Linked DNA regions of Homo sapiens. The protein of the gene in region 2 purifies or fractionates together with the protein of the main gene of each other region. This does not show direct contact. Each region holds a gene or a part of one and is shown on either strand. Other genes may lie near its edges. The genes, in order: CUEDC1, PLAC9 and MACO1.

The links.
Region 1: the proteins of PLAC9 (region 2) and CUEDC1 purify together in Homo sapiens (affinity purification with mass spectrometry; one large-scale study listed by BioGRID and IntAct). This does not show direct contact.
Region 3: the proteins of PLAC9 (region 2) and MACO1 purify together in Homo sapiens (affinity purification with mass spectrometry; one large-scale study listed by BioGRID and IntAct). This does not show direct contact.

The regions. Positions count from the first base shown.
Region 1 is NC_000017.11:57,882,261-57,885,912, forward strand, and holds part of CUEDC1 (CUE domain-containing protein 1), read right to left. Parts: intron 3,620-3,652; 5' UTR 3,305-3,619; coding exon 2,969-3,304; exon of another isoform or gene 2,912-2,968; intron 1-2,911.
Region 2 is NC_000010.11:80,135,670-80,139,321, reverse strand, and holds part of PLAC9 (placenta-specific protein 9 isoform 1 precursor), read right to left. Parts: intron 1-3,652.
Region 3 is NC_000001.11:25,433,828-25,437,479, reverse strand, and holds part of MACO1 (macoilin), read right to left. Parts: intron 1-3,652. UniProt on the Homo sapiens protein: Plays a role in the regulation of neuronal activity.

The DNA.
Region 1 (3,652 bases), on a different chromosome or scaffold from region 2:
CAGGAGCTGCCTGCCTATGGGCCCAGGCAGAGTTCCAAAGGTGGGGGGTTGGGGAGACTGCCAAGGGAGGGGAGGGGTACCGGGAGGGGGCTCAATTTGGAGAGCAAGATTCTTAGAAAAACAGAAGTGCACACACAGCAAGGGCCTACCTAGGGGGTGGTGAAGCCTTGCAGAGGTCTATAGGACTGTGGGGGCCATGGACAAAGGAGAAAATACTACCCTACCTGCCAGACTGTCAGGGCAAATCAGACTGCAGAAAGGGTCAGAGCTTGCAGAGAGCTTTCCTTCCAGTTCACACTTAAAGCATATACAGTTGACTCTCAAATAACAAGAGTTTGAACTGCGTGGGTCCACTTATAGGTAGATTTTCTTCCACCTCCACCACCCCTGAGACAGCAAAACCAACCCCTCCTGTCCCTCCTCCTCAGCCTACTCAATGTGAGAAGATGAGGATGAAGCCCTTTACGATGATCTACTTCCACTTAATGAGTAGAAAATATATTTTGTCTTGCTTATGATTTTCTTAACATTTTCTTGTCTCTAGCTTACTTTATTGTAGGAATACAGTATATGATACATACAACACACAAAATATATGTTAGTCGACTGTTTATGTTAAGGCTTGAGTTAAGGCTTGAGGTCAACGATAGGCTATTAGCAGTCAATTTCTGGGAAAATCAAAAGTTATATTAAAAAGTGGATTTTTGACTGCAAGGGGAGGATTCACTGCCCCTAACCCCTGCATTGTTCAATGGTCAACTGTATCTGCAGACACACACATACATACGCATACTCTCACTCTCTCTCTCTCCTTCTTTCTACAAAGAGGATCCATATTTTCCAATATTCCTTCCACCACCTACTCCAAGCAGATCAAAGGAGTGGTCTCCCAAGGAGAGAGACAATAGAAAACTGTACAAAGACAGCAGCAACACGTACTCATTCAACAAACACTCCCTGAGTGCTTGCTATGTGCGTGGATTGTCCTGGGTGCTGCAGATGACACAGGGATGAGCCAGATGTCTTGGCCAACAGAGCTTTTCCACCTCTAGGGGAAGTCTCAGCAGCACCCACTAAGGAGGAAAAGCAAGGAGACTTTGCCCTGCAGGATGGCTGATGAACAAGGGTAATAATAATGCCACAGCACAAAGTTTGTGAGGATTAGAAGAGATGACACATCGGGCCAGGTGCAGTGGCTCATGCCTGTAATCCCAATACTTTGGGAGGCCGAGGCGGGCAGATCACCTGAGGTCAGGAGTTCGAGACCAGCCTGGCCAACATGGTGAAACCCCATCTCTACTAAAACTACAAAATTAGCCGGTCATGATGGCACATGCATGTAGTCCCAGCTACTCGAGAGGCTGAGGCAGGAGAATCGCTTGAACCTGGGAGGTGGAGGTTGCAGTGAACCAAGATCGCGCCATTGCACTCCAGCCTGGGCGACAGAGCAAGACTCTGTCTCAAAAAAACAAAAAAACAAACAAAAAAAGAAGATATGATACATCTAAAGCACTTAGGATGATGCCTGGCACGGGTCGGGACTCAATAAAGAGTGGAGTTAAATCCTGCTGGGTCCTGGTCTTGTCCATGGCTGCATGTCCCAGATGGCCCTGTGGACAACACCCCTCTGATTAACAGGCTCTGTGTGCCTCATCCTTCTGCACCAAGCACCTCAGGCTCTGCTGATACTGGGTGGCCAGATGTCCACTGAACTCGGGTGGGACTGGAAAGGACTCACAACCTCCAGCAGGTGGGTACTGATGCAGTACGCAGGTCCCCTCTCTCCAGCCACTTCCCTGGAGAGACTGCTTGGCTATGGCTCACTACTGTTTCCATCAGGCCACAGTCAGAGGGATTTAACTGGCAAGTCTGATTCCTCACTCCCTTTCCGTGGCTATGCTCCCAGGATACAGCCGCACTCTTTTTCTTTTCTTTTTTTTTTTTTTTTTTTTTTTGAGACGGAGCCTTGTTCTGTCACCCAGGCTGGAGTGCAGTGGCATGATCTCGGCTCACTGCAACCTCTGCCTCCCGGGTTCAGGCGATTCTCCTGCCTCAGCCTCCCGAGTAGCTGGGACTACAGGTGCGCACCACCACGCCTGGCTAATTTTTGTATTTTTAGTAGAGATGGGGTTTCACCATATTGGCCAGGCTGGTCTCGAACTCCTGAACTCATGATCCACCTGCCTCGGCCTCCCAAAGTGCTGGGATTACAGGCATGAGCCACCTCGCCCGGCCCCAGCCGCACTCTTTTTCTCAGCGTCAGGGCTTTGTCAACCTCATTGATCTCCTCTCACTCTAGGACCCTGACAGATGGTCCTGCTGCCAGTTCCCTAGCCAGTGAGGCACTATTTCACCTCCCAGACTCTGCACAAGCTGTTCCCTTTGCCTGCACACCCTTCCCCCGGCTTCACTCTTCCTTTGGGTCTCAGCTTAGGGTTTCGGCTTAGCCATCGCTTCCTCTGGGAAGTCACTCCTTTCTGCTGCTTCCACGTCTCCATCGAGCACTTACCACTCTGGCCGTCAGTACCCGACTCGCGCTTCTAGTCCACACTGGACTGTGAGCTCCAGGAGGGCAGAAATTTGGTCTGACTTGGCCACTAGCGGACTCTACGCCTGATGTGGAGTTCAGTATGTTGGGGTGGGGCCCAGGCACCTGCATTTTTAACAAGCACCTTGATTCTGATGCCTCCTGACTCAGGGTCTAGTGCCACGTCTCGCACACCACTGAGTGGGCGCTCAGTGTTTGTTGAATGACTGCATGATTTCTGCCCATAAAATAAGGTGACTGACGGATGGTACTTTTCCCTAGGGGAAGTAAGGCTGCTTGCTAATTAGAACCCAGATAGCGGAGTAACCCAGGTCCTCTTAGAGGTTCCAGTGGTGGTTGGAATTACCCGGGCCGTGCCCCTACCTCCGGGGGGATGCTGTCCTCCAGTGGTGGTTGGAATTACCCGGGCTGCGCCCCTACCTCCGGGGGGATGCTGTCCTCCGAGTCGGAGCTGTCCTCATAGACGCCGCCGCTGCTGCCACCGCCCTCCAGGTTCATCTGCAGCAGCTGGTCGATGGTGGCGTCCACAGCGCCGCTGTTGGCGCGCAGCACGCATTCGATGATGTCGTAATCCATGTTGGGGAACATGGTCTTGAAGTCGTCCATGGCCTGGTTGAACTCCAGGCGGCGCACCTGGCGGGCAGGCCGGCTGTTGTTGAGCTCCTGGGGGGCGGCCGTGCCTCCCCCGCCCCCGCGTGCCCCGGCGGTGCCACCCCCGCCGCTGCCGCTGCTGCTCCGGCGGAACAGGCTGGTCATTTTGCGGAGCCGCTTGGGGAAAATGTTTCTAGCCGGCCGCAAAGCCCCTTCCCCAGGGTCTTTCCGCCGTCAGCCGCTTACTTGCCCTGCGGTCTCGGGCAGCTCACTCCTGCGCCTCCTCCTCCCCGGGTAGCCAGGCAGCAATGGGCTGCCAAGAGCTCCGGGTTAGGAGAGTACGGGCGCGGGGCCCCAGGCAGCCCTTGGAGAGCGGTCCTCGCGGGGCGGTGGCATGCGGGACCGGGCCGTGCTGGGGCTGGGCGGCCGGTCATCCACACCCCCGGTGCATCCTGGCACCGGTTTCACGGATGGTCCCACCTGAAACCGAAAGAGATGGAGTCAGGGCCGAGG
Region 2 (3,652 bases):
ATGGGGGCTGAAGAGACTGGAGGTCTTAGGAATCACAGGAGGAACAAGAGGTAAAGAATGTTGCAATTTTAGCCAGGCGCGGTGGCTCACGCCTGTAATCCCAGCACTTTGGGAGGCCGAGGCGGGCAGATCATGAGGTCAGGAGATCGAGACCATCCTGGCTAACACGGTGAAACCCCGTCTCTACTAAAAATACAAAAAAATTAGCCGGGCGTGGCGGTGGGCACCTGTAGTCCCAGCTACTAGGGAGGCTGAGGCAGGAGAATGGCGTGAACCCGGGAGGCAGAGCTTGCAGTGAGTGGAGATCGCGCCACTGCACTCCAGCCTGGGTGACAGAGCTAGACTCCGTCTCAAAAAAAAAAAAAAAAAAGGAATATTGCAATTTAACTTTTAGAGGTCGAGCAGCTTCAGAGAGTGACAATATTAAGGCTGTGGCCATGGATGCGGGCATCCAAAGCTCAATAGGGGGAGTTATGGAACTTGATCTCTCTACGTGCAATGCTTGTAGCTGTAAGGCCTTGGTATTGGATGGGTTGGCCAAGGGGCCATCTGCAGTTGTCTAGAAGTGGGGCAGGTCTTGAGGTAGGACAGAGCTGATGATGGATGTGTAACTCTGAGAGGCTGAGTGATTTCCCCAAGGTCACACCATCTGCAAATGCCTGGACCTCAGGCACCCTGACCTCCTGTTCTCATCTCAGCAAGGTGGGGACCCCCTGCCCTGTGATTTTCTGATTCCAACTCTATCTAGCTCTCAGCACTTCCACTCAGAGATGAGAACAGGACCAGAGACAAAATGTCCTTCCACTCTGAGCATCTTTTGTGGAGAACAATCTGTTTTCCAAATTATCCTTTTCATTATTTCCCTCCACTGAACTTAGAAAATACTCTTCAAAAGATAATGGTGTTATTGCTGAATCTGGGGAGGGAGGAGGACATTATAATGGCCCTTTGGTTATTTTTTTAATGCAAGTATTTTAAAGACCTATACTGAAATATTTACAGATGAAAGGCTGTGCTGTCTTGGATTTACTTCCAAAGTAAATAATCCAGGCCTCAGTGGGGATGGTGGAGAGGCATGCGTGGATGTTTAGAGCAAACAGGATGGGCTGAGAGTTGCTGATTGTTGAAGCTGGGTGATGAGCAAATGGGGGTGCATTCAGCGATTCTGTCTACTGTTGTGTGCACGATTTGAAATGTTCCATAACAAAAGCTGGCTGTCTGACGAGGTTGTCAGCAGAAAGCAGCAGCCATTGTGGGCTGCAGGCATTCATGTAAAATATTCAGAGAGAGAGAGGCCCCTGGGGGCTATGCTCCATCCTGGCCCCACATCCTGAGAAGGCCCTTGAGAGGCAGGAGCAGGTCTAGAGGAGGCTATGGGAAGGGACTCCTCTTTTTTTTTTTTTTTTTTAGACAGGGTCTCACTCTGTCACCCAGGCTGAAGTGCAGTGGCACAATCATGGCTCACTGCAACCTCTTCTTCCCGGGTTCAAGCAATTCTCCCACCTCAGCCTCCAGAGTAGCTGGGACTACAGGCACACACTACCATGCCTGGCTACGTTTTGTATTTTTTGTAGAGATAGGATTTCACTACGTTGCCCAGGCTAAGCTCAAACCCCTGGGCTTAAGTGATCCGCCTGTCTCGGCCTCCCAAAGTGCTGGGATTATAGGAGTGAACAACCGCACCCAGTCTGGGACTCCAAATTTTAACTCAATTCTCTCAGCTGAAACTGGGCTGCTCAGCTTGGAGAGGAAAAGCTCTGAGGGGGCCTCTGTTGTCACCCACAGAGTGGCCGTCCTAGGGGAGGGCCTGTTGTCATGAGTCTGTGGATACACATACCCCCCTGCTGGCTCTGTCCAGAGGCCTTTGGCCAAGCCTTTTCTCTGAGGCTCACCTGCCCTCTCCCAGACCCTAGCCACTCTCCCGTGTAAGGCTCAGGCCAGGGGGATGCAGTGTGACCCTGCCAGCCAAATGGGAGTCTGGCTGCTTTGGAAGTCAGAACAACCAGAGCCTGCTCCCCTCCACTGGCCTAAACCACCCTGTTCTCTACGTGTCTGTGATGAGGTCTAACTTGGCTCCAAAACCCCTCCAGGGAAAAGGCTGGGCTGAGGTCGCTCCCAACATGGCTCAGCACTAATCCTTCACATCTGGACAAAACTGTGCTTTGTGCACCCTGGAGCAACTGTCCGTGAGCTCATCGGGGCCTCCACAGAGTGCATCTGAGAGAGCAAGCTTGGAGCAGGGCCTGACATTGTACTGCCAGCATCCTCACCACAGCGCTGACTTGAACGCATCATGGTAGAAAACATGCTGGAGACCCCTTTTCTCAGCCTGGTTCAGCCACTAATGATTGTGGGATTGTGAGAAAGTTTCTTCTGCTCCCTGAGCCTCTGCTGCCTCTTACATAAAATGGGGTAGGGTAGGCCTGAGGCCCTGACTCCCCCGTGTAGCGCATCCTTAATTCTTCTGTCTTTTGGAGGCTGCAGAGAGGCCTCAAGAATTAGCTAGACGAGCTGGGCTCGGTGGTTCACACCTGTAATCCCAGAGCTTTAGGAGGCTGAGGCAAGAGGATCGCTTGAAGCCAGAAGTTTGAGGTCACTCTGGGCAACATAGTGAGACTCTGTCTCTACAAAAATAAATAAATAAATAAATAAATAAATAAATAAAATAAAAATTAAAAAAAAATTAGCCAGGATTGGTGGTATATACTTGTAGTCTCAGGTATTTGGAAAGCTGAGGCGGGAGAATCGCTTGAGCCCAGGAGTTTGAGACTACAGTCAGCTACGATTGCACCACTGCACTGCAGCCAGGGTGACAGTGAAAGACTGTGTCTTGTAAGAAAATAAATAAATGAATAAAAAATAGTAGACACGCACATGCACCACAGGGCTGTCAGTGGCTCAGACAAGGGGAGTGGAAAAGACTGAAGGATTATGATGATTAACCCTGAGCAGCCAAGGCTGTGGCTCCTCAGGGCTCCCTTCCTTCCTTTCCTCCCGCTCTCCCAGGCCCTGCCAGTTGGGAAATGGACCTCCTTGGATGCTGCGTTGTTTTCTCTGGCCCGGCTCCTGCTAGGGGCCTGATGTGCACCCTGGATGGTGGCCATGGGTGGGGCATCCTGTGCTGGTGAGAACACGCTGCTGTGGAGCCCGGAGGCCCCAGAGGAGGGCTCGGCTGGGCTGGCTGCCCCAGTTAAAGAGACGTGGCCCCTGGGTCCCATCCTCTGAGGCGGAAGTACGGGTGCTTCTACTTACAGGCCTTATGGGGAGACCTTTTGTATCTGGACCCAAACAGTAAGAAAGGGCCACAACACAGATGATTTCTGCATGCTGGGGGTTGAGAAATGTTTTCTCAGTGGCATCTGAAAGGTGCCGCTGTATCTTCTGAATTGTCAAAGTCACACTCTGCTTTGAAAAGCAACCCTGGCCACTTGGGGGTTAATTATATTTGACCACATTCAACATAATAGAATAATAAATTTACCACATCCAATATTTGTATTAAAATGTATGATTCACTCAAAACCATCCACGGGTTTTGATCATTTTTGAAAGCAGCAGAAAACTATTCTTCAAGTGATTTTATAAAAAACTCCAAAATATGGGCCGGGCGTGGTGGCTCATGGTCTAAAAAGCCATCAGGGATAAAGGTTTC
Region 3 (3,652 bases), on a different chromosome or scaffold from region 2:
TTTATTTGGTTTTTAAAAGTGTTGGGTGGGTGCGGTGGCTCATGCCTATAATCCCAGTACTTTGAGAGGTCAAGGTGAGTGGCTCACTTGAGCCCAGGAGTTCAAGACCAGCCTATACAACACGGCGAGACTCCATCTTTATAAAAACGCAAAAACGCAAAAAAAAAAAAAAAAAAAAAAAGCCAGGCATGGTAGTATATGCCTTTGGTCCCAGCTACTCGGTCAGCTGAAGTGTAAGGATCTCTTGAACCCAGGAGATGAAGGATACAGTGAGCTGTGATCTCGCTGCTGGACTCCAGCCTGGGCGACAGAATGAGACCCTGTCTCAAAAAAAAAAAAAAAAGTGTTTTGAAGATGAACAACGTAACAATATGATTCAAAAACAGAATGAGATTATTTCTAGCCACTCCTCTGTGCTGAGTGGGAGATCGGTCCTAAACAGCTCAAACTCATCAGTGATATGAACAGATATATGAAAGTGGAGTAGTCACACCATTTTAATCACTAAATGCAAAAGCTCTGAAAAAGAGAAGGCAACAGAGGAGATGGGGTGAGGGATACATTATTTTTGGTGCCACAATCCCATGACTCAAAGTGGGCATATCATCCTTAAAGGCAGCAGAGAAAAAAATATAAAGCAATCAAGGTCAGTACTATGACTGTCTTCAAAGGCCAGGGAAGACAAGTGCCTTGGAAGGCTCATCAGCTGAGACAATTTGATGTCGGTTAAATGTCAAATTAAAGATACAGAGCCTCAATATTCTCTAAAAGTTGATTAACTTTTTTCAAGCTTCCATTGCCAGGATGCAAGGTGAGAGGCTTTGAAAAGTCACTACTTAAGCATCTGAAGAAATCCACAGTGGAAAAAGTCTAACAAGGATATGTGTATCTACTGTTGTATGTACCATCCTACTTATGCAGCTTGCTGGACAGCCAACTTCTTTTTCTTCTGGACTTAATTCTTGAGCAAGAGCCAAGTAAAATAATTATGCCCAAATCTAGTAAGCCTGGGGATAAACTAATCAGTATATCTGAAGAGCACACTAAATTTTATGAAGAAAAGTAACCTAATTACAGTATTTCACTTAACTATGTTTGTGAAATTTCTACTTGCCCTCCAAACTCCACAAGATGGTAGCCTAGAAACAGATAAAACAAAGTGCACTTTATATACATAAAACCCCAAAGGGTTAACAGTATCAGTGGGGAGATCTGGGAGAAATGGCCAAAGAAAAAGATTCTAGGAACATAAATGCTTACAGAACATGGACTGGGTCCATGAGATATATACAAGCATATAACTAGTAAGAAAATGTAAATAATTATTTGTTAAACCTACCATTAAGATCAATCTCTAAATCTAGTGAGGTTCAAGAGAGGCCATGAGGAATCGATGTGAAGAAAAAGGAGACTATCAATGATAAAACAGGAAGCTTTTAAGCAAATAATGTGAAGTGAATCACGTTCTCTCCTGTTCCCCTCCTCAACCCAGCAGCAATTTAAAGGGATTTTCAAAACACCTAATGAAACTAAACTGCCAAGACTGCTCAGACAGGAAGAATCATAATGAAAGTTGGAGGAAAGTGCTTTTTCATCCCAGTGTGGCCGATTTTTAAAGTGTATTTTGTGAAAACCACAAATAGAAGAGTTTAGCTAATAAACACTTCACTGCACAGGTTAGTGAAAACATTTCAATTTCTCCTTCCCCAACACTCCTCTAAAACAATACAGAATCTATCACTTTCGTGCCAGGTCCAGGATTGTTAAAGTTAAAGCCTACCAAGATTACCAAAATGCTTTTAGGCTATGAGATTGCAACACAGGTATCTGGGGTTTCAGTTGCAGAACACATGTACAATCAAGGCAGCCAAGGGTCATGACAGCCTGCAGTGACTTTAATAAGCATAGCCCAAAGGAGTCTAAAACTAGGCTTAGAAAACATCATTAAGGAGGCAGAAAAAGCAGTCAAATGAAACCTCTGGAGATCAGATGTAGACAAGGGTCTGAAAAAGGAAATTGGGAAGTTGAGAAGAATGCAAAATTTAATCACTTTAAAAAGTCACTTTTGAGGAGCCCCAAGGACCAGAGAATTTTTCTCTGAAATAAAAATGGGAAATAATAACATATACACCAGTGCTGAGTTCTTAGTCCTAGTTTTAAGGCATTAAGCTGCAAAAATATGACAGTCAGGTACAATACTGCACTGCCTAAGCTTCACACAGCACTACAAGCAGAATCCAGTACATGAAGACAGGAAGCAGTCTTAAATACACAGTGAAAGGGTACTTCCTTCAGCCACCAGTAACACAGATATAAAATCATTCCCAGAAGCTTAAAACATATACCTTACTTAAAATTCGTATTATATTTACTTGCATAAATAACCATTTAACTGTAGCGATTTGGAATATATGTATACTTTAAACATAAATGTTTCTGCCTCCTTCTTCTACTTACCACATCTTATCTCCTCATTTTTATATTATAAAGTCAGTAATTCTCTGAGGGAAGGGAGTGGAAAGTATGGCAGGGTGAGAGGTAGGGGTAAACCATACAGAATCCCCTTAAGGCTTTTAAAAACTACATAGTACCCTAACCTCACCTCACCTGGAAAATCACTGCCTGCAATGAGATATTACTATCGGGAGTGTCTGGTGCACATGTGTCTAGGCAGACACAAGGAGAGAACCCAGCCCAGAAAACCAAAGGACCTTAGAAATATAAGAGTTAGGTACTTAATAACTTATGTTCATAATTTTTAAAGTACTTTCATATCTATCTCATTTGAGATAGAAAAGACTCCCTCATATAGTGGCAACTGTCTACTTTATCATAAAATAGCACAGAGCAAAATACAGCTGTTAATGTGTCAGATGAACCACTAAAACAGTAAGCTAAAATTTAGCACAACAGAAATATTTTTACTTGAACAGAACTTAAAGTTCTTTGGAAACTCTAAACCACTGTACAAATTTAAGATGGTATTACTACGGCCTACTAGACTGTAAACTCCTTGAAGACAATGAGCCATGTGTTATCCTGTATCCTCCGCAATTCCCTGAACAACGTAGGCACTTCATGAATGAAATGGACTAGCTTATATTCATTTATTAATTTACTCACTCAACATTTATTGAACACTGAATGTCGACTCTGTCAGGCTCTGGGCTGGGTCAGATTTTTTTAAAACTACATCGAACTTTAGCCCCTAGTAAGATGAAAAGATCACTATTCCTATTTCCTTTCTCCTATTTTTAATTATTAACTGGACTAAAATATTTCTATAGCATGTTTCACTTTTCAAATGATGTTTTATATGTATAAATGCAGATTACATTAACATAATGTCTAAAATTAATTTTCCTTGCATCTCACCCCGAAACAGAATTCCAAGACAGCCATGATACTCACAATAAATGATATCATTTGACAGTCACCTCAGTAACAGTTGTTGGACTGCAGCCCATGATTTAAAAGTGAGTCCACAACAGGATTTTTTAAAGCAAGACCAAACAGCAACTGACCCTTTGTTTTGGCTACTCAACTTTTGTTTACAGTTGCACCAAATCTTACAGTATTTCCTGCCTCCTTAAAAAATTAACCACACGTTAAACTGTGATAGCAACAACATGGTAAATAGTATCTGTAAACT